Regions from separate parts of the Homo sapiens genome. Here all the other regions are linked to region 1. The links come from fine-mapping of genetic effects on gene expression. A gene starts in region 1. Each other region holds a variant in brackets. All regions are shown on one strand. Distances are between the middles of the regions.

Evidence for each region.
Region 2: its variant is fine-mapped to the expression of SLC5A9 in substantia nigra (GTEx, PIP 0.99). The same link has a PIP of 0.9 or more in spleen.
Region 3: its variant is fine-mapped to the expression of SLC5A9 in lung (TOPMed, PIP 0.97).

What each region holds. Positions count from the first base shown.
Region 1 is chr1:48,218,974-48,227,545 of GRCh38, reverse strand. It overlaps SLC5A9 (solute carrier family 5 member 9), which reads right to left and starts at 4,830. Exons shown (of 14, transcript NM_001011547.3): 1 at 4,648-4,830; 2 at 2,751-2,822. The coding sequence starts at 4,809.
Region 2 is chr1:48,249,894-48,258,465 of GRCh38, reverse strand. No RefSeq gene overlaps it. Among named protein-coding and RNA genes, the nearest start is that of SLC5A9, 31 kb to the right of the region's middle. The variant G/A (reference allele first, on the strand shown) is at 3,837.
Region 3 is chr1:48,170,406-48,178,977 of GRCh38, reverse strand. It overlaps LINC02794 (long intergenic non-protein coding RNA 2794), which reads right to left. Exons shown (of 15, transcript XR_007066073.1): 13 at 385-469. It also overlaps the pseudogene SKINT1L. Among named protein-coding and RNA genes, the nearest start is that of SLC5A9, 48 kb to the left of the region's middle. The variant G/A (reference allele first, on the strand shown) is at 4,444.

The DNA.
Region 1 (8,572 bases):
ACACAGGCACAGTACACACACACTCATGCAATTACACACACTCTGACACACACATGCACTCACGCCCACACAGGCACAGTACACACACTCTCTCACACATACACACACACACACTCTGACACACATGCACTCACGCCCACACAGGCACAGTACACACACACTCTCACACATGCAATCACACACAGGCACAGTACACACACACTCTGACACACACATGCACTCACGCCCACACAGGCACAGTACACACACACTCTCACACATACACACACACACTCTGACACACATGCACTCACACACAGGCACAGTACACACACACTCACACATGCACACACACATGCACTCACACACAGGCACAGTACACACACACACGCACACACACTCTGACACACACACTCATGCACTTGCACCGTCGCACACATACACTCACACACATGCACATGTCCTCATATGCCCTCACACGCACAGGTATGCACACACGTGCACATACATTCGCAAAGCACACACACACAAGCACACTCATGCACACACACAGTGCCCACATTCACACATGCATACATACTCACACATGGAAACAAATTCACACAGGCACTCACACACACACTCACTCTTCCTCTCTCAGGCGGTCCCAGGGTGCTGGTAGGGCTGGGCTGAACCACCCAGTCAGAGCAAAGAACACCAAGGCCTCCTACTTCAGGGGAAGAAGCCTCCCCCAGGCAGTTCTTGGAGCAGTGAGGCACCTCCACCCCAACCCAGCCCAGGGTTTTTAACCTCACTTCTCCTGCTCCTAACCCAGGAGACATCAACAAGATCAGCAGGGGAGGCATGGGGAGGAGGACCATGCAGACCTCTCTGGAAGAGGACGGGCGACTGCACCTTCTGCTCTCAGCCTCCCAAGCCCCACACTGTTCATGGGGCACAGACTCAGGGCAGGGCAGATGCCCAGACAAACACTCCAGCAGTGCTGGTGGGACTGAGCTTTCCCTACCCAGAGCTGGTTCTTACTCTGGCCTCAGGCAGGACCCAGGTCTCAGGTGCAGGAGGCACAGCTCACAGCCTGGCCCACCAGAGGATGGGGAGCACATCCTCTCTTTCCCACTGGGTGCCTGCTCTGTGTTTGGGGCGCAGTGGGAACCTGGGAGTGCCTGCCAAGGCCTCCCTCTTGTTTGGAGGCCTCAGGTTCCTCACACTAATCGTTGGGCCAGAGCTCGGCTCTCTGTGGGTTGACCAGACAATCAGCAGGGCCCCTGGGCTTCTCCTGAAGTGGTCAGAGGAACCTGCTCTGTCCTGCTTCTTTCTCCTCCTTTCCTTCATTTCCAGGGCTGTGATTTGGGGGGCACTAGCTGAAAAGAACCATTTTGAAGGGTTTTTCCTTTTTCCTGATGAGAAGGTGGCTGTAGCACCAGTGACCCCGCCACTGTTCCTGAGCTGCAAGGCCCAGCTCCCCGCCATCCCTGGGGATTCTGTCATGCTGGACAGACAAGAGCTCCCTGCTCCTACTTCTTCCTGTCCCAGATACCTAAACCTTCCAGAGAGCCCTGGAGGCCTCCTGTGTTTCTGCTACTCTTTAATGAGTCTGTGACCACTAGAGAGTGGGGAAGGTGGTGAGAAGGAGAAGGGTGGGGAGAGGCGTGAAGATGGCTGGTGGTGTGAGTGCGCATGAATGTGTGAGTCTGAGTGTGCACGTGTAAGTATGTAAAGGAGCATGAGTGTGAGACTGCATGTGAGTGTATGTGATTGTGACAGTGTGTATGAGAGTGAGAGTGTGAGTGCGTGAGAGAAGGTGTGAGTGTGAGAATAGGAGTATGATTGTGTGCATGAGTTTGCAAGCATGTATGAGTGCGGGCATGTATGAACATGTGTGGGTGCCTTTGTATGTGAGTGTGAGTGTTGTGTGTCAGTGTGTGAGAGTGTGCATGTGGGAGTGGGTATGCACACATGCCGTGTGTGAGTTTTGCATGCCTGGGTGTGTATACTGCTTCAGCTACCACTGGGGCTGATGACTCTACTGGTAATTTTTGAGGCAGGGCTTTCCTCCCTCCATCCCATTCCAGGAGGAGGAAGTTAATTTTGAGGACCAATAGAAATGTGAGGTGGCTTGATGGGAGAAATTGTGGCTCACGAAGGTTTGGGGATCGATTCCCTGAGGTTTTTGGGGATTTTACCTCTGTGATTCCCCTAACTTAGAAATGTGGTGTGGCTTGATGGGAGAAACTGTGGCTCACAAAGTTTTGGGGATCGATTCCCTGAGATTGCTGGGGATTTTACCTCTGTGATTCCCTTAACTTAACTGTTCTTCAATATTAAGCTTATGTGTCACCTTCCCCCCAAAATCTTTCCTAACCCTAGCTGACTCCACTGTCTGGTGGTCAGGGGCTTCCAAGCTCTGGTGAGTGCCCCCTGCTTCCCTCTGGCTCAGCAGTGCGCATGATGTTTATGAATCTATCTGCCCCACTCAGCTCTGAGCTTCTCTAGGACAGGGACATTCCAGATTCATCACTGCAAGTCAAGTGCCAGATGTAGGGCCACACCTAGGAGGGGCCAGGGGATGTTTGTCCAAGGTGCGTGCTAGCAGGACCACTCAGGTTGCGGGGCGGGTTTGGGCGGGAGAGAAGGGGCCCAGAGTCAGGAAACACAACGGGGAGGTCTTTGCCTTGGTCCAGGTGTGAGAAGATGGGACAAGTGCTTGGATAGTGGGGAGGAAGAAAGTTGGGAGCCTCTGCACTAGGGGTGGTTGAGAAGGGTCAACTCACTGGCCACCAGCTCATGGACCTCCCGGCCAGGAAATAGCCGCCAATGGTCCCTCGACTTGCACGGATGGACGACTGGAAAGGAAATAGATGAGATGAGGATTTCTCAAGACTCTCTGAACCTCTGCCCTGCCCCCTCCCCGCAGATTTCCTTCCCCTCGGTGCAGGCACTGTGGGGACACAGAGGGTGAAAACTGAGGCAGAAGAGAGCTGCCTGAGGCTGGTTCCACAGTTTCTAAGCGATGTATCTTGGCAGAGTCACTTTCTCTGTGAGCCTCGCCATTCATCTCCCAGGGCCAGTGCGAAGAGCAAAGGAGGTAACGGATGTCACGTGTGTGAAGCCATTGATTGTGCACTCTTGTCCCCTTATCCTTCCCTCCCCAAAGTGCGCTTTCAGAGTATGATTTGTTATCACCTCCTTAGATGTGTAGTGCTCACCCTTTCTCTGAGCTGATCCCCTCCCTGCTCCCAGCTGAGCTCCCACACTGGAGGCGGGAGGACAGAGAGGGCTGCAGTTTGACTGTGAGACTTTGAGCCCTGAGTAGAGTTATGGGTACTGTTTTGGAGTTTCCCTTGCCCTGGGTTGAAATCAGATCACGCCACTGAGCCCCATCCAGGACCTCCCTGTCTTACACCAGTAGGTGGTCAGTTAGCAGCCTGTTGGAATATTCTCTGGAGATACAGGGTGAGGGCAGGGCAGTGGGTAGGGAAGGATGAACTTGAAGCAGCTATTCAGATGCAAAAGCCAACAGTTCTCTGACTTTCCCCTAAGGGAAAATAATCAGTCACGAGGGAGTGATAAATATGTGTGGGGCCTTGTGCTTGTTAAGCTTTTGCTTGTATTTTCCTTGTCAGCTCTGATCCTCTTGGAGGCCATACGAGCAAAACAGATCCATTTTACAGATGTGAAAATGGAGGCCCAACATTGGAAGCAATTTGTCCAAAGTCACAGAGGAGTTGGTGCTTTTCTCGGCTGGCCACTTCCAGGAGCCAGTGACCATCTGTTAGCCCAATTCTTCCTCACACCAGCACTAGAAGGCAGGGACTGTTCACCCCCCTTTATAGATGAGGAAACTGAGGCTCAGAGAGGGTCTCTGACCTGGCCACAGCCTAGGAAGTGACCATCTGGGACTTGAATCACAGCAGAGTCTAAAGGTGCTCACACTTCTGTGGAATGCGTGGTGATAATAGCAGCCATTTATTGCCTGCTGATCGGGCACCAGGCACCGTGCCAGGTGCTGCAGTATGTCCTGTTGCTGAATGATCACAGCATAGTCCTTATTCTCATTGTTCACCTGAGAAAGCTGATAGGCCTCATATGTTCCCAGGGACATGAGGCTCTCATTGTTGCAGCTGGGACCTGAACTCAGGTTTCCCTGACCCCAAAGCCTGGCCCCTGCCTCTAGCACTGAGGCTCCTGGGAACAATGGAGAACAGAGGAACCTTGGAATAAGCCTGGCACACTTCCCTGAGAGCACATGAGCCCCTTCTCATTTAGAAATCACCTTAGCCAAGATGCTAACGAATGCAGGACTGAGGTAGGGCCAGGGGTCAAGAGTTCTCAGAGTTGGGGGCCTTGGGGTGGGAAGAAGGAAGGAGTGAGGCTCAGGGCAACCAGGGATGGTTGGGGCCAAAGGCAGCAGGTGCTCAGAGAGGAGTCAGGAGTCGGGGGCCTGGTCTGCCTCTGACTCTCTGTGTGACCTCAGACCAGCCACACCCCTCTCTGCCCTTCTAAAAATGAGGAGATCAGGAGCCTGATTCCTGAAGGCCCTTCCTTCTCAGCCACATGGTTCTATGATCTGCTTCTTTCTGCCTAGCCCTGCCCCAGCTCCACAGCCCCACCCAAGCTGAGAGACCACTACTACCTCCCCTGCTAGCCCCAGCCTCAGGGCCCACTTACCCAGATCCCCACAGCAATGACGAAGACAAAGTAGATGACCACCACGCTGATGTCGTAGGCGTGCAGACCAACTCTGGAGTCCAGTGCTATGTGTGGAGCTGTCTCAGTCCTGACCCCGTCCCCTGAAGCTCCAGGCCCCATTGCTGCCAGCTCCTTGCTCATCTGTTAGTGTTGGTCAACAGCAGGCTGGACTTTGAGGCGCTCCTGGCTTCATTCCTTTCCTTTAATGATTAAACTGCCCCAAGCACCATTAGTTGGTGAGAAAACTCTGAGCCCTGCTGGCACATACAGTCCTGCCTCCTTTTCTCCCAACTGCCACCACCAACCCCTGCAGGACTCCTTCCTTCCTCTTCCTTGCTGCCACTACGTGCACACACATACATGCATGTGTACACACAGGCACACACATACACGCAATCTCCCTAACCCCAGATGAGCAGGAGGAGAAAGGAGGGGGAGGAGGAAGAGGAGAAAAGGAGCAGAATATTGGAACCCCAGAGGTGGGAAGGACTTCAGAAATCAAAGTGTTCAAACTCCTGTGTGGTGGGAAAACCAAGGCCCAGGGAAGTAAAGGTGGAGCCGGGACTGGAGTCCAATTTTCTTAAGAGTTCAATACAATTGTCTTTTACCTAGTGAGAGGAAGACAAGGGGAAGGAGGTGAGGAGTCTACTGTGACCCTAGCAAAGTGGCCACCACCTCATGTACTCCCATTCCAACCTACCTAGATGTTGCTTTCTCTTTTTATATAGTGTAGGAAACTGAGGCTGGGGAAGACATCATCATTTATTCCAAGGAACTAGGCAGGGCCATCTCTGAAAAGGCAGAGCCAGAATTCACATCTTCTGATGCCTGACCCATACTTCCTATTCTGTACTGTGACAGATGAAATGGTTGTGGTCAGGAGGCCTTCCCTGAAAAAGATACAGTGCTCCCTGGGTCCAGGGAAGACCATCTCTGGGACTCAGGCAGCCTAGATTTCAGTCCCAGCTCCACCTCTCACTGAACTACAGATGCCCTTGGGCAGGTTGCTAAATGTCTCTGGGCCCGGGTGTCCTCATCAGTGTGACCTGTGCCCTGCCTGCCTCACACCACCAATGAGGCTAAGATGTGCTCCTGAGAACCTCTGCAAACCCTGAGCTACTGAATGTTCTTGGGGTTAACACAAAGAAACCAACATCGACCACCATCTAGCCAAGGGGCCCAGATGCCACGCACTTAGATATCTGCTCACATGGTCCTTCCAAAGTAGCTGCATTTGGAATATTTCAGTCTTACAAATATTACTCTGCATGCATCTGCTGTAGGGCCCAGACTGGAGCAGCAGGAAAACAGATCTCACTGGCCCTGTCCCACACCCCATCCCCAGCTCTCACTGGCCCTGTCCCACACCCTATCCCCAGCATCTTATAAGTATCCCAAGGCTGGGTGTGAGGACCAGATCCTCTTTTTTCCCCTTTTGGTGGAAAGAAAAGTGAGAGGCAGGGTCCTAGGCCTTCTCTCCCCAGTTCTCCTATCCCAGAACATCAGGCACTGGCCAGGCTGAGCCCCGAGGAGAGGGATATTGATCTGGGAGAGAGGTCAGCATAGTCCCCAGCTGGACAGGGCTCTGTGGGATCTAGCACCTGTTAGGATTAGATACCAGAGGAAGAGTCCTTCATATACACGTTTAAAGGCAAGTTTATCAGACGAACAGGGATGCAGGAGGGGCAGCATTAGAAACATCAGGAAAATGTGATGGACCAGGTGCCCAGTGGTCCCTGGGGGTGAGCTGGATACAGGGACAGTGGGGAATGAGGCTGGCAGATCTCTGGGTGTTAATCAGGGAGCAGGGAAGGAGTGGTCTGAGCTTAGGCCTCTGAGCACACCATAGTGAGGGCTCTGGATCCGGATGACTCTTCCAGAGATGGGAAAAGGAATGTCGCAGGGAGAAGACAGCTGAGTCTTGTACTTCTTTCTATGCTCCCCACAAGGAGCCCCCTCACCCAGCCCTTGGGGTTTGCTATAGTTTGGATGCTTGTGTTGCTTCCAAAATTCATGTTGAAACTGAATCCCCAATGCAACAGTACTAAGAGGTAGGGCCTTTAGGAGTGATTAGCCCGTGAGGGCTTCTCCCTCATGGGTGGGATCAGTACCTTATAAAAGGGCTAAGGGAACTAGCCAGGCCCTTTTGCCTTTTTACCTTCTGCCATGTGAGGACACAGCCACAAGGTGCCGTCTTGGAGGCATAGACTGGGCCCTCACCAGACACCAAACCTGCTGGGGCTTTGATCTTGGACTTCCAGCCTCCAGAATTGTGAGAAATAAATTCCTGTACTTTATAAATTACCTGGTCTTAGGTGTTTTGCTGTAGCAGTAGGGATGGACTAGGACAGTGTTCTGCTGCCTGCATGCTCTGTCTTCCCATCTACCTCACAGATACATGAGGCTGACCCCCAAACCCTGCACACTTACCTAATCCAAAACTAGCAGGTTTGGGTTTATAGTAGCCTCTCCTCGAATGCATCTAAGACTTATCTGTAAGCTAACCAGGCACATTAGCAGCCCAGAGACCAACAGAGCATGAGGAAGGGAGCAAAAAAGGCTTTGAAACAGCCAGAATAGACATTCTAAAACTCATGCCCAAAACCTAAATCTTTGACTTATCAGTGAGCCTTGTGACCCCACTCAGAGACTGTTTATTTTTGTTTTAGCCAGAGTCTTGTTATTCATATCCCAACTCACAACAAATTAGAAGAGAGGGGGCAAAGCTACACAGGGACAGCAAGGAGAATGGCAGCTGATGGGTTGATGGTGCATGAGAGGTCATTAAACCTGGAAAGACCAGGAAAGACAATGTAAAAGATGACTAAATCGGGGCAAACAGACCTATAAAACTGGGTAGATCAACTCTCAACAAAGGGCATTCTTGAGTAGCAGCCAAGATTCACACACATACGGATGACCCAGAGTCATCAAGGAAAGGTGACTGTGGTCATTATGAGTTTTCTATTTAGAAGGCATGGAGTATGAAACCCAGGCAGGAAGAGTTTCATGCAAAATGGTCAAACATTTTAGGCAGGTGTTGGCATTCAAAGCTGAGGCCTCAATTATCCAGAATATTCTCTCAGAGAGCTTCCGAGAGTGAAGGATGTCCTCATGCTGTCAGTCCTACATGAAGTGAGGCCTGTCCTATCCCTGACCCTGTTCAGGGAGCACACATGTCTTTAGTTGTTCATGCCTTGTGGGGAATACAGACAGTCAAAAGACAGGTGCTTTTGACACAAAATAGGTCACTTTTGTCCACCCCTTTCTTCCTTTTAGCTGGATAGCCCAGAGGAAGGATCAATGAAGTCCTTTGTTGGAGAGACTGAGAAAGCTTTATGGGAAGGGGAATGGTTTCAGCCATGCATAAAAAAGTATAGAAATATAACAGGCCAATAAATGGAAGTTGCCACTGAGGCACAAAGACATACTACACATAAGAAGAACAAAGTTGGAGGTTTCATGCATCCTGATTTCAAAACTCACTACAAAGCTACAGTAGTGAAAGCAGTGTGGTAGTGGCATAAAGACAATCATATAAACCAATGGAATAGAACAGAGAGCCCAGAAATAAAGTCTCACAGTTACAGTCAAATGATTCTTGACAAGAGTGTGAAGACCACTCAGTGGAAAAATGACAGCATTTTCAACAAATGATGCTGAGAAAATGGAATATTCCTATGCCAAAGAAAGAAGTTGGACCCTTACATTGCACCATATATGAAAATTAACTCAAGATGGATTGAAGACTTAAATGCAAGAGCTAAGAAAATAAAGCTCTTAGAAGAAAACATAGGGTAAAATCTTCATGTTGTTGGACTTGGAGATAATTTCTTGGTGATGATGCCAAAATCACAGGCAATAAAGGAAAAAATAAATAAACTGAACTTCGTCAAAATTAAAA
Region 2 (8,572 bases), 31 kb before region 1:
CATGGGATTATAGCAAGTACTACAAATAGGCAAAGTCAAAGGAGCTTGCTTAGCCATTTAACACCTATCATGGACTCTTAAACTGGAGTTTGGATTGCAGGATGCTTTTTATGTAGTGACCTTGGATCTATACCAGTGGGAGGGAAGGATTGGGCAGAGGGGATAATTTTAGCTGCAATGCAGGCCTGATAGCAACCTTGCTCAAACTCACAGGGAGCGCTGGAGCTAAAATGGTCCATTGGAATAAACTCATGTTAGGCTGAAATGGCCATGTTTTTATACTTATTATTCACTGGATGTGGACTGCTCTTGGAAGGGTGGGACCTCTGGCAAGGTGGATCTGTGGGTAAAGAAATGCTGACAATTGAGGGCTGCCTCCCCACAGAACTGCCAGCAGCTGGGGCAACAGACCTTTTCTTGAAGAGGAATCTGGTGACACATCACCCTGCCTTTGCCTCCCCAAGTTCTATTATAACATATATGATCCAAACCAGTTTGCAGAAACATGGCTGGACAAAGAGGCTCCACCCTCTCACTCTCCCAGTTTCTTCCACAAAATAAAGTCTCAAGTAGCTCACTGTTCCAAAAGTGACTTAAACCACTGGACATCACCACCATTCCCAACACAAAACCATAGATCTAATACTAGGCCTATGAAGAGTTAGTGTTTTTCCCAAGCAGTAATTATAAGGAAGGTGTACAGCCCTAACCTGTTTATCAAGCTCCAGATTCACAGATACAAAAACTATCTGGCTATGCCAGTGGGATATCCCATGGGTACCTCCAAGTCGGTGTGCTCAAATCTGAACTCATAATTTCTTCTTTCAAGACCAAACCTGCTTTCCACATCTTAATACATTAGAGTACCTACTCTTTAGATCTAAAGCCTGGGAATTATTCTTAATTCTCTCCATCCCCCCAGAGTCAGTAAGTCCTGCAGATTTAACTTCACGAATGCCTTTTAGCAGCCTTCTCCCCTCCTCCAGTCCTCTCCCCTCCTTCACGGCTACTGTCCTAATTCAGGCCCTCATTCAAAGGAGGTTATCTTTTTGTAATTGTACTAACTTTTAAAAGTTAAAATAGTATGTTGTTGCAAATAGTGTAGTACAGCTTATGATATTCTCTTTTCTTACCCCATACCTGCAGGTACCCAGGGATGACCTTCTGTGAATGGTCTGCCTAGGTATTCTGGTGGATTCCTCCACAACTCCTTTTGATATTATGTAGATATAATACCTTTTATCTTGACTTCAACAAGCCAAGAACAATCTCTACTATGAAAGATGAAAATTTAATGTTGACTACCTTTCCTCCCTTCTTTTCCCAGTGTTTGATATTCATGTTATTATTAGTTATTTTATTGATTACATATGTAATTTTCAGTAACAGACTTAAACCTCTATTTCTTGCTCCACCTACTTTCAACAATCTGTTGACTACCTACTTTGTAAGAAGACAGATATTAACACTTCTGTCTTTGCCCTCTCAATTCTATCTTTTGTCAACTACATGTTTATGTTGTCAAAGTTGTAACATTTACATTCTTTTCTTTAGCCAAATTAATCTTCCATGCTCTTCCTTCCATAATTTTTTATTCTACAATTAACATTTTGATGTGTTTGCTTTAGTACAGTATTAATTTATCAATCCTTTTTTAAACAGTGGTAAAATGTACATAACATAATATTTATAATTTTAACCATTGTAAAATATACAAATTTTAACCATTTATAATTTTAACCAAATGTACACATTTGGTTACAGCATTCATAATGTACATAATGTACAGCATTCATAATGCTGTATACCTATCACCACTATCTATACCCCAAATTTTTCATCATCCTCAACATAAACTCTGTACCCACTAAACAATTTCTCCCCCTTGCCTACTCTTCCCCTGCCCTCTATTCAGCTTTTTCTCTCTCTGAATTTGCCTATTCTGGGGACCTCATGTAAGTAGAATCATTCAATATTTGCCTTTCTCTGTCTGGTTTATTTCAGTAAATGTAATGTTTTCAAGGTCCATTCACGTTATAGTATATATCAAAAATTCATTCCTTTTTAAAAAAACTTTTATTTGAGGTTCAGGGATACATGTGCAGCTTTGTTACACAGGTAAACTGGTGTCACGAATGTTTATTATACAGATTGTTTTATCATGCAGGTACTAAGTTTAGTACCCAATTGTTATTTTTTCTGATCCTCTCCCTCCTCCCACTTTCCACTCTCAAGTAGGCCCCAGTGTGTGTTGTTCCCCTCTTTGTGTCCACGAGATATCATTTAGCTGTCCTTTTTACATGGCTGAATAGTATTCTATGTGTATGTATAAGATTTTGTTTATCCCTTTATCTACTGATGGATTTTTCCTTTCTTTTTTTCAGTGATACTGCAACAACCTCAAAAATTGCCATCCCTTAGCAGCCTCTGGCTCTATCATTTATTCTCTTACTGTTGCTGGAATGATCTTTCTAAAGATAAGATGCTCTTTGTATATATTAGTTGCCCTTACCCTTCCTGACTCTGTCCCATTCTTGGCTATACCGTGGCACCCAGTGTCCCTAGGCTCACCTCTACCTCTTCTCCAATGTCATCTGTGTTACACTCTCACAGACCCTGTGCTTCAGCCACAAAAGGTACCTCACTCTACCTTAGAGATGCCATGGCCTTTTACATACTTGTCTTGCTTTGTGCAGTTTCTTCTGTCTCTCATATAATCATTTTGTCTGTCTACACAGAAATCTCTACACTCCAAGTAGAGTTAAATGTCTAAATCTAAGTTAAACATTATTTCCCATGAAGCCTTCCCCATTTCCACGAGGTAATTTGTTGCTCCTTTCTCTGTTTTTCTGAAGTATTTTGTTCCCACCTAGAATTTCAGTGCTTAATTGTTCTGCAATAATTTGCTGACTTGCCTGCCTTTTTTATTCAACTGACCTCCGCGTAGATTGCAGCTGTTTTCCATATTTATGTCATGAACCTGGAAACTGTAACATTCATGAAGAATGCTGCATGAGTGAGTAGTAGTACAATGAGGGTAGGGTTGAATGTGGAGTCAGAAATCTGGGCTTAAAGACCAGTTCAGCCACATTACCTCACCTCTCTGAGTTTGTTTCTTCATTCATCAGTCCTAGACTGGTGTTGAGAACTAAATGAGATGGTTAATGTGGGAGCACTCTTTATAAAATAATTGCGAGGATTTTAAAAATTATCAGTCTTACTAGTCTTCATGTACTTCTCATCCCAGATAAATTTACTATTCTATAGGAAGTTCCCAGTTTGTGAATCATTCCTTTAAGAAGAAATCATAAATAGTGGAAATATAATTTTGGAATACCTGATGTTTGCTTTGTTTGCTTAAGTGGTTAGAAATTTCAGGGATGCAGAATTTAGCTAGCAAAAGGAAGAACTTTCTAATTGGCAGTGTGGTCCAGTAATGAATGCTCTCAGGAGGTCATCATTGCTCCATCTCTGGACCACCCTGCCAATTAGCAAGTTCTAATAGAGGGCTGGCTAAGTTTACCTGTCAGGGAGACTGTTCAGATAAATTCTGACCCAGAATGAAGAGGGAGGAGAGCTGCACTAGCTGACTCTGAGGTTCCTTCTCATTCTGAATGTTTATAATCCTAAAATTTACATACAAGGCATACTGAGAGAGAGACCAATGCTGCTTTTGTAGTCTATTCAGGAGATAAGGTATAAAGGTTGGGTTTTATTTTTTCCTCTTTAAGAGAAAGTTGTAGATTTTGTATAAGACCACAGTAAAAAGTCTGACATTTCTACTTTGTGAGTCTGGGCTGAAGCTGAAATTTGATTTTGAAATATGAAAGTAAACT[G/A]TAACTACCTTAATTTAAGCCTGTAGGATTTACATTTATATATAACCTTTAAATTTCTCCCAAATTTTCACCCTGGAGAAAAAAAGAAATTACAGTAATCTTACTTAAGGCTAGAAATCTAGACAGACACTCATTCTAGGTTAATGGATAACTGACACTGCTTTGCCTGGGCTTCTAGCAGTTTCCATCCCCTCTGACTGATGTGAACTCTCACACCCAAGGACATGGTTACGAGTCTCTCATGTTAAATTGAGTGCTTTTGTAGTCCAAACTCAATAACAAAAACACTTTAGAAAACATTTTCTTCATGATATTTTTAAGAGTGCTATTTTTTTTTAAAACACCATCCTTTCACAGTTCAAAGCTGCTTCTTAATGTTATTATTGCTCATGGTAAACCCATTTCAATTCTCTGAAAGCTACTCTGCAATGTTTTTCTATTTGTGCTGTTGCCTCTCAAGCTGACATATGACTTTCCCTGTATACCCTCCACTACCACCAACCAATCCATCCACTTCCTGCCCCAAGGAGACAAACTGTGGAAACAAATTAGAAGCACACAATGTCAACATGAGAAGCGTCCATAGATTTCATCTAATCTAATTCAAGCCTTTGCGCCTCTCCTCTTTTAAGGAAGAAGCAACTGAGGGATGGCTAGGGAGGGTCATAAAGCAAGTAATGACAAAATTAAGCTAGGATACAAATCTTTTACCTGCTTATCTAGTACTTTTAACCACTGCCCCATGCACCGACTGGAGGTGAGTTGGGGTAGGGGCTCTGAAAGGTTTCAGAGAGGTGGTTACAGCTCTCACTGTGGTGACTGACAACTGACCCAATGGACAGGCAGTTTCCTTTTAAGTGACTTGGTAGAAGGCCTGACATCATCTTGCAATTGAATGAGGGGCTAAGAACCCTGCTGAAATATATACATATAGAGAGAGCCGGGTGACATCTCATATGTACATATTGGCAGGTAGTGATGGAGAGATCAACCTGAGAACAAGGTCCTGCTGGAATGAGAAAGCATGGCAAAGATGAGAGGTTTGGAAAGGGGCCACAGGAGCATTACAGTCAATGAGACTGAAGGTCCACATTAGAGACTGGAACAACTGAGGCACAAATGGTGAATGCTACCATCTGAGATTCCTCAGATACATTGAGGACATTCTGAATGTGAAGGGGGTTGTTGGAACTTGGAGGCAAAAGAGGCTGCTTTGCTTTTTAATTTTTACAGGCTGTCCTGAAGCTCACATTTGGGTGTTGACTGGCCTTTCTGAAACGGAGATGAAACTTGTCTACCTACCTCTAAGAGTTGTAGGATTTAATGAGACCTCACCCGTGGCGGGACTTTGTAACTCCAAAGTCTGTACAGATTGTACAGATATTGTCTATTATTCTTTCTCTTGATTGTGGCTAAGAACTAAGGAATCCAGAGCCAAAATATGATGGAGTAAATTGAACATGCATTCATTCACTCATTCATTGAACATTTATGAAGAGCTTACTAAATGTCCTAAAACAATGCAACCCCTAGATGAATACCACACCTACTTTCAAAGAGCACCAGTCTGTGGCAAAGAAGAGATGAAAATAATTATAACACTTGCATGAAACTTGCTATAGTAGAAACACAGGGGCCTGTGGAGGCTCAGAGGAAGGACACAAAACCAACTTGGGTGAGTGGAGGAAGTAGCATGAAAAGTTAGTAGGAAATGATTCCTGAGGTGAGTAGGAGATAGGCAATGGTGGTAGAAGGTCAAGGGTAAGTGTTCCAGGCAAAGGGAGCGACATGAACAATGGCATGGGATAGGGGAAGTAGGGCTGAATGAGAGGACCTTGGAGACCCCTTCAAATGGTAAGTGTGACAGACACATTAACGAAAATGTAAATGTGTGTGTGATGTGTGTGCCTTCAGTAGACCTGCCCAGGGCTTGGTGGTAATATAGGCCTCAACATGCCTTTTTCTCCAGCCCCTCCTATGTCATTCTTGGCTTGCCCACTACCCCTGAAACACTTTTCATCTTGAAGGGCCTGGATAATTGTTGCTGAACCCTTGCATGGCCTTAAGCAAGTCCCATCCCTTCTAGAAGTCTCCAGTGTCTCTTTCTGTGAAATATGGGGGTCTGATTAGCTGGTCACTGAGGTCCCTTCTAGGACTGACCCTGACTTGTGAGCTTCCTACACTGCAGTGATTCACTGTTTGCCTCTGACTCTCCCCCACACTCTGGGAATGGAGCTTAGGTCTCCTGACTTTCAGCTTAGGGTTCTTTTCTTTCCACCACATTGGCTGTTTTACTGTATCATAAGAGTTAAAGGAGAAACATCCTGTTCCTCAGAGAACTGAGTCTAGCTGAGAGCTAAGAAGGCACCAAAGCTTGAACACCATGGTACCCCTAGTGCCTGGAACAGGGTGCGGCCCATGACATTATTTGTAGTGTTTAGTGCCAAAATGAAAGAAATCTTGATTGTAAAACCTCAAAACTGGAGATAACCTAATAGATCTCTTTGTATGGGCTGTTCCCTCTGCCTGAAAACCTTCCCTTCAGCACCCACTTCCTGTGGCCAGCAGCAGGGCTAAGACTTGATACTAGACAGGAGAGCTTCTCTCCCTGTGGGTAAGACTTTATGGTCAAAATCCTCCAGACTTTGCCCTTTTCCCTCTCCACAAAGCCCAACTTCAAAGCCTGATTTCCTGTTAAAAAACTGTCTTTGGTTTCTCGGAAGCAGCACATGAAACCAGGTGCCAGCGGTTTATTTCAGAGGAGATCCCAGGAAACACCTCCAAGGAAATGGGGAAATGAGACAGGGAAGGGAAGGGAGCTATGCAGGGTGTGTTAATGGACATATTAACACGGTGGGTAGCTGCGCCTCATTGTCCCTCTGAAAGATATTTTAGAGCAAGGCTCCAAGTTGTCCCACTTCAGGGCAAGGGGCTGACAGTGCTTATCCTCAAACTCTTTTTTGTCGCTGGTTCAGGGCTGCTCCCAGGTGTGTTAACTCCAAGCACTTCTAGCTTGTTGTATGCAGGGGACCGAACATTTTTCTACAGTCAGAGAAAGCCCTCAGCAGAGAGGTGAAGGGGCTTTCAGCAGGAAGTCACAGTAAACAGCACTGCTGAGACCTAGGGGATGTGGGCAAGGAGACTGACAGCCTCTGCCCCAGTGGTGCAATGCCCATTATCTTCAGTCCCTGGTCAGTAATCTTCACAGCTCTGCCTTAGAGGCAAGAGGCTAAATACAGACAGGATTTATAAGGGGAAATTAAATATGCAGGGTTGACATTTGCAAATGAATAAATAGTATCCCTATTTTATGGGAATTCATTGTGCACTTTTGTACCTTAACCCTTTAGCACATGCTGCCTCACTACCTTGTATGACTTTTTCTAGAAAACTCCAATTCATTCTTCCTTCAAACTCTAGCTCCATTATGCACTTTTATGTTATGCCCTTTCCTGATTGCCCTGATAGAACTAATTCCTCCCTGCTCTTTTCTCTGACAGCATTTTCTGCTAGATCTAAAATAACATTGCTATGTAGTGTCATGCCTCCTTATGTGTTCATCTTGCCTGCTACTAATAGCAGTAATAATGTTGTGGGACGTTTTCCTTAGTTTAGCTAAGAGCCAGGTCCTTATCGCATGGCCATGAAAAATTAGGCTTGCAGATGATTTGAAGGGTGAGAATAATGGGATTTATTGGGCAAAAAGGAAAAAACGGGGAACAGGAACTCACTTCAAGGCCAGAGTTCCTGCTAGTGTAGGATTCCCACCTCACAGATTGAATTCCAGGTTCCACCCAAGGAGAGGAGAGGCCAGGCTCCTCCCTGCTGCAAATGGCACGAACGTCTGTGGCTCCATCCCAGTGTGCACTCCTCTCAGTGCATAGGCCAGTTGGAGTTTTGCCAGGGAGCCCTTCCCACCTGGCTGTCTCAGTAATAGCTAACATTTATTAAGTACTTTAGTTATGTGTGAGGCACTATTTTAAATACTTTATTTGAATTAACTAATTTAATCTTCTCATCAACCCAATGAAGTAGCTGCTATTACTGTCTCCATTTTGTGGATGAGAAAAGATAGATAGAGAAATTAAACAACTTTTCCAATATCTTGTCATTAGAAAATGACAGCATGAGGAATTGGTTCCAGAAGATCAGTCTTTCAAGCCCCTGCAGTCTTCTTAACCACTGCACATAACAGCCTGTCTTTGGCTGTAGTACAGAAGGGGGCACAAGGACAAAACCCTGGGATATATTTCTAGCAATTTTCATAGGATCTCATGCCAAGCTGGAAAACACCATCTATGGAGAGTCTTAAATAGAACAATACTTGCATTTTAGAAAAATCATTCTTGCTATAGTGCATAGGATGAATTGCAAGAAGAGAGACTGGGAAGAGAGATAAGAGTCAAAGGGCTGTTGAAATGATCCAGGTAAGAGATGAAGTCCCAAGTTTAGCATGGACCTTCCTTCCTGAGCTATCACCTGCTTACCTCCCAGTCACTGCACCACCCATTCCCCAACATGCAGGCCTAACACTCATGGATGTGCAGGTGGTGCCCTGCACAAATACACCTGGACAATAGGGGCATGTGGGAGCTGAAGTGAGCGTGGGCTCTGGCTGCCACCTGTCACCCTATAGTGAGGATCTGTATCTGCCAAGAAGAAAGGCATCTTTTGCTCACTTTCACAATGAAGCATAAGGACTAGCAGTGGTCCTGTCCACGTGTATCTTCCACTCC
Region 3 (8,572 bases), 49 kb after region 1:
AGCAAGTCTTTATCATGTATTAGGTTCCAGGGAGAAAAAAAAAAACAACAACAAATGAAGAAGACCTAACATTTGCCCTCAAGAACTCAATATTTGTATTGAGGTGACATGATTTACTTATATCTTATACAATGAAGAAGCTGTCCAAATTGTGGTCCATATTGGAATCCATGTGAGTTATCTGTACAGTAAGATAAGCAAAGACACAATAGGCTGGTGGGACCTCGATAGGTGATGAAAATTTGCAGTGGAAGGGGATCAATGCAAAGCAGACATAAATATAGTTTATTTAGAGACATATACATTAAAATCCTGAACCAATAAGTGGCATACAAGATTTAAAATTTCTGGCAAAAGCTACTTGTTACATGGTACAAATCTTACCAATGTGTAGTTGGGTAGTGTCCAGTCTTTGGCTAATAAAACGAAAGCTGCCACAAACACCCTTGTACATATGTTTTGAGCATATCTGTAAGTAAGAATGTAGGAAATATTTCTATGAATAGAACTATTTTGTCAAAGGCTATGTGCTGTTTTTATTACGATATCAAAAATATTCTGAAATAGTTACCAGTGTACATGTCCACCAACAGCATATGTGAGTTTGTCAGGTGGGTGTTACAGGTTTCAGGGTTTTTTGTATTTTCCAAATTTACAGATGAAAAATAGAAACTCACAGTGATAATATTTTACTTGTTTATTGAGTTAGGGTGGCCTTCTTTCCTCTCAAAAAATTGTATTCATTTTCTCTAAACTGCCTACTTAATGCCTTACTCCACATTTCCTTTGCATTAAACTTGCACAAATCTCTTTTTGATCTGTTATAACTGTTGCATGTGTTTCTGACCAGTTTATAATTCAATGGACTTGTTAGTTATATTTTGGATGTGCAGAATTATTTGGTTTTGACTTTTGATTTTATTTTGTGAATTACAAAATTTCCCCCAAGTTTCCATTTATTTCGCTCTCCTTTTTCTCCTCATTGACTTTTAACATTTTTATAGACTTTATTTTCTATAGAAGTTTTAGGTTCACAGAAAAATTGTGCAGAAGGTATATAAAGTTCCCACATAGCCCCACTCCCTCTTCCCTACCTGCCCCCCTCCCACAGAGTTTCCCCTTTTGATAACCTCTTGCATTTGTGTGATACATTTATTGAAATTAATGAACCAATATTGATAGATTATTATTAACAAAAGTCCAAGTTTACATTAGACACTCTGTGTTGTACCATTCTCTAGGATTTAACAAATTGTTATATAAATGAGCCAGAGATGGCCTTTGCATATTGGCCCTTTGTTGCTTACTTCTTAAATCAGGCTGAGACTCATTAGCTCAAAAGCCCACAGTGCCAAACTGAAATGTTTTCGCATCCAGTTGTTGTAAATATATCTCCAACAGGCAGATTTTTTTTGCCATTTTATGTCTTCCTGCTTTGTACACCTTGGGAAACTGCACCCAACATCTGCCGGCCATAGATAAGAAAAATCTTGTAGTTACATAAACTGCAGGCTGCTGCCCTTCAGAGCCCTCTGACCCAGCAGCTTCCTACCATGCTGTGAAGTGATGTTATCTAGACATGCAGCATCTCCCTTCCCATCCTTGGGAGCTCCTTTGTCCTCCTGCGTTCTGGATGGTGGTCCCCTGTGCTTCTATAAGGCCTTATGCTGTGAGGACTGTTCTTTTTGCAACCCTGTCCAAGTAGCGTCCAAGTAGAAGCTTTGTGTGCTACTGCCACCTGTGGGCTTATCTTTTTCCTTGATAAGCCTCTGAAATTCTCAAATTCATTATATAAATGTATTATGCTATGTATCCACTGTTATAGTATCATAGGATATAATTTCACCATCATAAAAATGTCCTGTGCTTCACCTGTTCATCCCTCCCTTCCCCTGAAGCCTGGCCAATTACTGCTCTTTTTACTGTCTCTATAGGTCTGACTCAGAATTTCATACGGTTGGATTCATACAGTCTGTGCCCTTTTCAAACTGACTTATTTCACTTAGTAATATGTATTTAATCTTCCTACATGTCTTTTAATGGCTTCATAACTCATTTCTTTCTATCACTGAGTAATAGTTCATTGTATGGACTTATCATAGTTTGTTTATTCATTCACTTACTGAAGCACATCTTGACTGCTTCCAATTTTAACAAGTATTAGAAAAGACTCTTTAAGCATTTGTATCAAGTTTTCAACTAATTTGGGTTATACTTAGAAGCACAATTTCTAGATTATATAGTAAGCTTATATTCAGCTTTGCAAGAATGTCAAACTGTCTTCCAAAGTTCCTATACCATTTTGCACTCCCACCAGCAATGAATGAGAGTTCCTGTTCTTCACGTCCTTGTTTGTATTTTTGATTTCAGCCATACTTATAATAGGTTTAGGGTAGTATCTCATTGTTTGAATTTGCAATTCCTAAATGATATATGATTTTGAGCATTTTAACATCTTTATTTGTCATCTATCTTCTTTAATAAAGTATCTGTTCAGATATTTTGTCTATTTTTAATTGTGCGGTTTGTTTTTACACTGTTAATTTGTATATTCTGCATAGAATCCTTCATCAGCTATCTTTTGCAATTTTTTTTTAGTCTGTGGCTTGTCTTTTTTTTCTCTTAACAAAAGCTTTTGCAGAGCAGACATTTTTAATTTTAATGAACCAAAATTTGAATATAATGAATTAGTGTTTGATCTGTTATACCTTTTCTATACATTCTTGACCAGTTTGAAATTCAATTTAGTGACTTATTTTTATGTTGTACAATTCAACAGTTTCTTCTTTTCACAGTGTCCAAGTCCTACGTTTTCTTAGTAAGAGTTTTCCAGACCACATTTCAAGATTATAACAATGACTCTTTCATTTATTTTAAATTTTGAAACTAACCCATGCAAAATGATTTCTTATATAATAATTGAGATTAAAATCTGACATTATTTTTTCAAAAAATACCTAGTTGTTTTTTTATTTATTAAGTAATCCATCTTTCTTCAGATATCCGAGATGTTATTTTTGTCATAAACCAAATTCCCCTAAGGATTTGCATTTCCAAACTCTGCCCCATTGAACTCTCTTCTCATGGGCCAATTACAGAACTCTTTTAAAAATGTAGTATTTATATAATTAATTTAATATCTTGCAGAAATATTCTCTGCTGTTTTTTATAATATAGTTTTTCTATTTAAAGTTTATAAGCATATTTTCTTTTTTGAAGTACTTTAAAGGTATTTTTATTTTCAGGATCTCAAATGGTTCCATCAAGTTATGTGTGCTGTATTGTTGATTTTAACATAAAATATTCTGATATTTTCCATTATGCCTTTCAAATTTTTTTCTTTCTCTTTATTTTCTCTAAGATTGTTGTAAACTGGAAAATGTGATAAAATATGTATTATACAACCTTAAGAATATATCAAATTATATATCTAGTTAGATATAAAAACTAGTATAGAATAACAATGAAATGATTTTACCTTGCATTATTATTATTATTTTAGAATAGACATAAAGGTAAATATGACAACTAGCTTGTAATCACTCTATATGTGATATTTTGCTGTTACATAAGCATTTAAAACACATTCAAAATAATCAATATTTTAAATATATAATTGGAGTTTAATTGATTAAGGCACTAAAATTTGCAGAGTCTGCAAAATATCTCAAGCACTGATCTTAGGAGCAGTTTAGGGAGGGTAAGAATCTTGTAGTCTCAAGCTGCAATGCCCTTTAGCCATAATTTCTAATCTTGTAGCTAATGTTAGTCCTACAGAGGCAATCTAGTCCCCAGGCAAGAAGGAGGCCTGCTTTGGGAAAGGGCTGTTATCATCTTAGTTTTTTTTGTTTTTGTTTTTTAATTTTTTTAGTATTTATTGATCATTCTTGGGTGTTTCTCGGAGAGAGGGATTTGGCAGGGTCATAGGACAATAGTGGAGGGAAGGTCAGCAGATAAACATGTGAACAAAGGTCTCTGGTTTTCCTAGGCAGAGGGCCCTGCCGCCTTCCGCAGTGTTTGCGTCCCTGGGTACTTGAGATTAGGGAGTAGTGACGACTCTTAAGGAGTATGCTGCCTTCAAGCATCTGTTTAACAAAGCACATCTTGTACCGCCCTTAATCCATTTAACCCTTAGTGGACACAGCACATGTTTCAGAGGGCACGGGGTTGGGGGTAAGGTTATAGATTAACAGCATCCCAAGGCAGAAGAATTTTTCTTAGTACAGAACAAAATGGAGTCTCCCATTTCCACCTCTTTCCACACAGACACAACAAGAATCCGATCTCTCTGTCTTCTCCCCACATTTCCCCCCTTTCTACTCGACAAAACTGCCATCGTCATCATGGCCCATTCTCAATGAGCTGCTGGGTACACCTCCCAGATTGGGTGGCGGCCGGGCAGAGGGGCTCCCCACTTCCCAGATGGGGCAGCCAGGCAGAGGC[G/A]CCCCCCACCTCCGGGACAGGGCAGCGGCCGGGCGGGGGCTGCCCCCCACCTCCCGCAGGGGGTGGCTGGCCGGGTGGGGGCTGCCCCCCACCTCCCGGACGGAGCGGCTGGCCTGTCGGGGGCTGCCCCCCACCTCCCGGACGGGGGGGCTGGCCGGGCGGGGGCTGCCCCCCACCTCATCATCTTAGTTTTAAACTATAAACTATAAATAAGTTTCTCCCAAAGTTAGCTCAGCCTATGCCCAGGAATGAACAAGGACAGTTTGGGTTTTAGAAGCAAGACGGAGGCAGTTATGTTAGATCTCTTTCACTGACTCAGCCTTAATTTTGCAAAATAGACTTCACTTTCCTCAATGAGTGGGGCAAGGGACCAACATGGAGAGTTTGAAATGTCCCCTCTTCCCACATCTTATTATAGTCAGGGACTAAATATCAACTTTGAGAGTTTCTGAGCCTCAACACTGAAAGAACTTCTGTTACAGCCAAGTTGTATCACAAGCAGAAAACGATAAATGAAACATCCTAACCTGTGTACATTTGTAGGGGCAGGTGGTGATAGTTTAAGACATCTTGTTGGTAACATCGAAGAAAACAGAGAGACGCAACGTGTTAAGCATAGTACTTCCATAATAACAGACTGTGAAGAATAAGGAGGTCAAACTAAACATAGAATGTGTGAGAATTTTCCAGAATTTAAAAAAGACAAGAATCATCCAATTCAAGAAGCACTATGAAAGAGCCAGAAAAAGACAAATGCATTCATACATGGATTCATTATAGTTAAAATGGAGTAAATTTTAAGAACTGCCTGAAAGTATGTTTAGAGTAAATGAAATAATGGAATGAAGATGGGCATGTGTGGCTGGCAAGATGACTGAATAGGAACAGCTCGTCTGCACCTCCCATCAAAATCATTGCAGAAGGTAGGTGATTTCTGCATTTCTAACTGAGGTACCCAGCTCATGTCATTGAGACTGGTTAGACAGAGGGTGCACAGAGGGCAAGCTGAAGCAGGGTGGGGCATCACCTCACCCGGGAAGTGCAAGGGGTTGGGGAACTCCCTCCCCTAGCCAAGGGAAGCCATGAGGGACTGTGCCATGAGAAGCGGTGCTTTCCAGCCGAGATACTACCTTTTTACCATGGTCTTCACAACCCATAGACCAGGAGATTCCCTCAGGTGCCTACGCCACCAGGGCCCTGGGTTTCAAGCACAAAACTGGGCGGCTGTTTGGGCAGACACCAAGCTAGCTGCAGGAGTTTTTGTTCATAACCCAGTGGCACCTGGAATGCCAGGGAGAGAGAACCATTCACTTGCCTGGAAATGGGGCTGATGCCAGGGAGCCAAGTGGTCTAGCTCAGTGGATCCCATCTCCATGGAGCCCAGCAAGCTAAGATCCACTGGCTTGAAATTCTCGCTGCCAGCACAGCAGTCGGAAGTCATCCTGGGATGCTCGAGCTTGGTGCAGAGAAGGGCATCCACCATTACTGAGGCTTGAGTAGACGGTTTTCCCCTCACAGTATAAAGAAAGCGGCCTGAAATTTCAAACTGGGCAGAGCCCACTGCAGCTCCACAAAGCCGCTGTAGCCAGACTGCTTCTCTAGATTCTTCTTCTCTGGGCAGGACATCTCTGAAAGAAAGGCAGCAGCCCCTGTCAGGGGCTTATAGATAAAACTCTCATCTCCCTGGAACAGAGCACCTGGGGGAAGGTTGGCTGTGGGCACAGCTTCAGCAGACTTAAACATTCCTGACTGCTGGCTCTGAGGAGAGAAGTGGATCTCCAAGCACAGCACTTGAGCTCTGCTAAGGGACAGATTGCCTCCTCAAGTGGGTACCTGACCCCTGTGCCTCCTGATGGGGAGACACCTCCCAGAAGGGGTTGACAGACACCTCATATGGGAGAGCTCTGGCTGGCATCTGGTGGGTGCCCATGTGAGACAAAGCTTCCAGAGGAAGGAAAGGGCAGCAATCTTGGCTGTTCTGTAGCTTCTGCTGGTGATATCCAGGCAAACAGGGTCTGGAGTGGACCGACAGCAAACTCCAGCAGACCTGCAGCAGAGGGGCCTGAGTGTTAGAAGGAAAACTAATAAACAGAAAGGAATAGCATCAGCATCAACAAAAAGGACTTCCTCACCAAAACCCCAACTGAAGGTCAGCAATATCAAAACCAAAGGTAGATAAATCCATGAAGATAAGGAAAAAACAGGGCAAAAAGGCTGAAAATTCCGAAAACCAGAAAACCTCTTAATAACAAACTCCTCCGAGCTAATGGAGCATGTTCCAACCCAATGCAAGGAAGCTCACAACCTTTAAAAAAAGTTAAAGGAATTGCTAAATAGAATAGCCAGTTTAGAGAAGAACAGAAATGACCTAATGGAGCTGAAAAACACAGCACGAGAATTTTGTGAAGCATACACAAGTATTAATAGCCGAATCGATCAAGAGGAAGAAATTATATCAGAGACTGAAGATCAACTTAATGAAATAAAGCATGAAGACAAGATTAGAGACAAAAGAATGAAAAGGAATGAACAAAGCTGCCAAGAAATATGGGACTATGTGAAAAGAACAAACCTATGTTTGATTGGTGTACCTGAAAGTGAAGGGGAAAATGGAACCAAGTTGGAAAACACTCTTCAGGATATTATCCCAACCTAGCAAGACAGGCCAACATTCAAATTCAGGAAATACAGAGAACACCACAAAGATACTCCTCGAGAAGAACAACCCAAGACACGTAATTGTCAGATTCACCAAGGTTGAAATGAAGGAAAAAATGTTAAGTGCAGCCAGAGAGAAAGGTCGGGTTACCCACAAAGGGAAGCCCATCAGACCAATAGTGGATGTCCGTGCAGAAACCCTACAAGCTAGAAGAGAGTGTGGGCCAATATTCAACATTCTTAAAGAAAAGAATCTTCAACCCAGAATTTCATATCCAGTTTCATATCCAGCCAAACTAAGCTTCGTAAGTGAATGAGAAATAAAATCCTTTACAGACAAGCAAATGCTGAGAGATTTTGTCACCACCAGGCCTGCCTTACAAGAACTCCTGAAGGAAGCACTAAATATGGAAAGGAAAAACTGGTACCAGCCACTGCAAAAACATACCAAATTGTAAAGACCATCAACACTATGAAGAAACTGCATCAACTAATGGGCAAAGTAACCAGTTAGCATCATAATGACAGGATCAAATTCACACATAACAATATTAACCTTAAATGTAAATGGGCTAAATGCCCCAGTTAAAAGACACAGACTGGCAAATTGGATAAAGAGTCAAGACCCTCATTGTGCTGTATTCAGGAGACCCATCTCATGTGCAAAGACATACATAGACTCAAAATAAAGGGATGGAGGAATATTTACCAAGCAAATGGAAAGCAAAAAAAGCAGGGGTGCAATCTTAGTCTCTGATAAAACAGACTTTAAACCAACAAAGATCAAAAAAGACAAAGAAGGGCATTACATAATGGTAAAGGGATCAATGCAACAAGAAAAGCCAAATATCCTAAATATATATGCACCCAAAACAGGAGCACCCAGATTCATAAAGCAAGTTCTTAGAGAACTACAAAGAGATGTAGACTTTGACTTAATGATAATGGGAGACTTTAACACCCCACTGTCAATATTAGACATATCAACGAGACATAAAATTAACAAGATATTCAGGTCTTGAACTCAGCTCTGGACAAAATGGACCTAATAGACATCTACAGAACTCTCCATCCCAAATTAACAGAATATACATTCTTCTCAGCACCACATCACATTTATTCTAAAATCGACCACATAATTGGAGGTAAAGCACTCCTCAGCAAAAGCAAAAGAATGGAAATGATAACAAACAATCTGTCAGACAACAGTGCAATCAAATTAGAACTCAGGATAAAGAAACTCACTGAAAACTGCACAACTACATGGAAACTGAACAATCTGCTCCTGAATGACTACTGGACAAATAACAAAATTAAGGCAGAAATAAGTAAGTTCTTTGAAACCGATGAGTACAAAGACATAATGTACCAGAATCTCTGGGGCACAGCTAAAGCAGTGTTTAGAGGGAAATTTATAGCACTAAATGCCCACAGGAGAAAGTGGGAAAGATACCCTAACACCACAATTAAA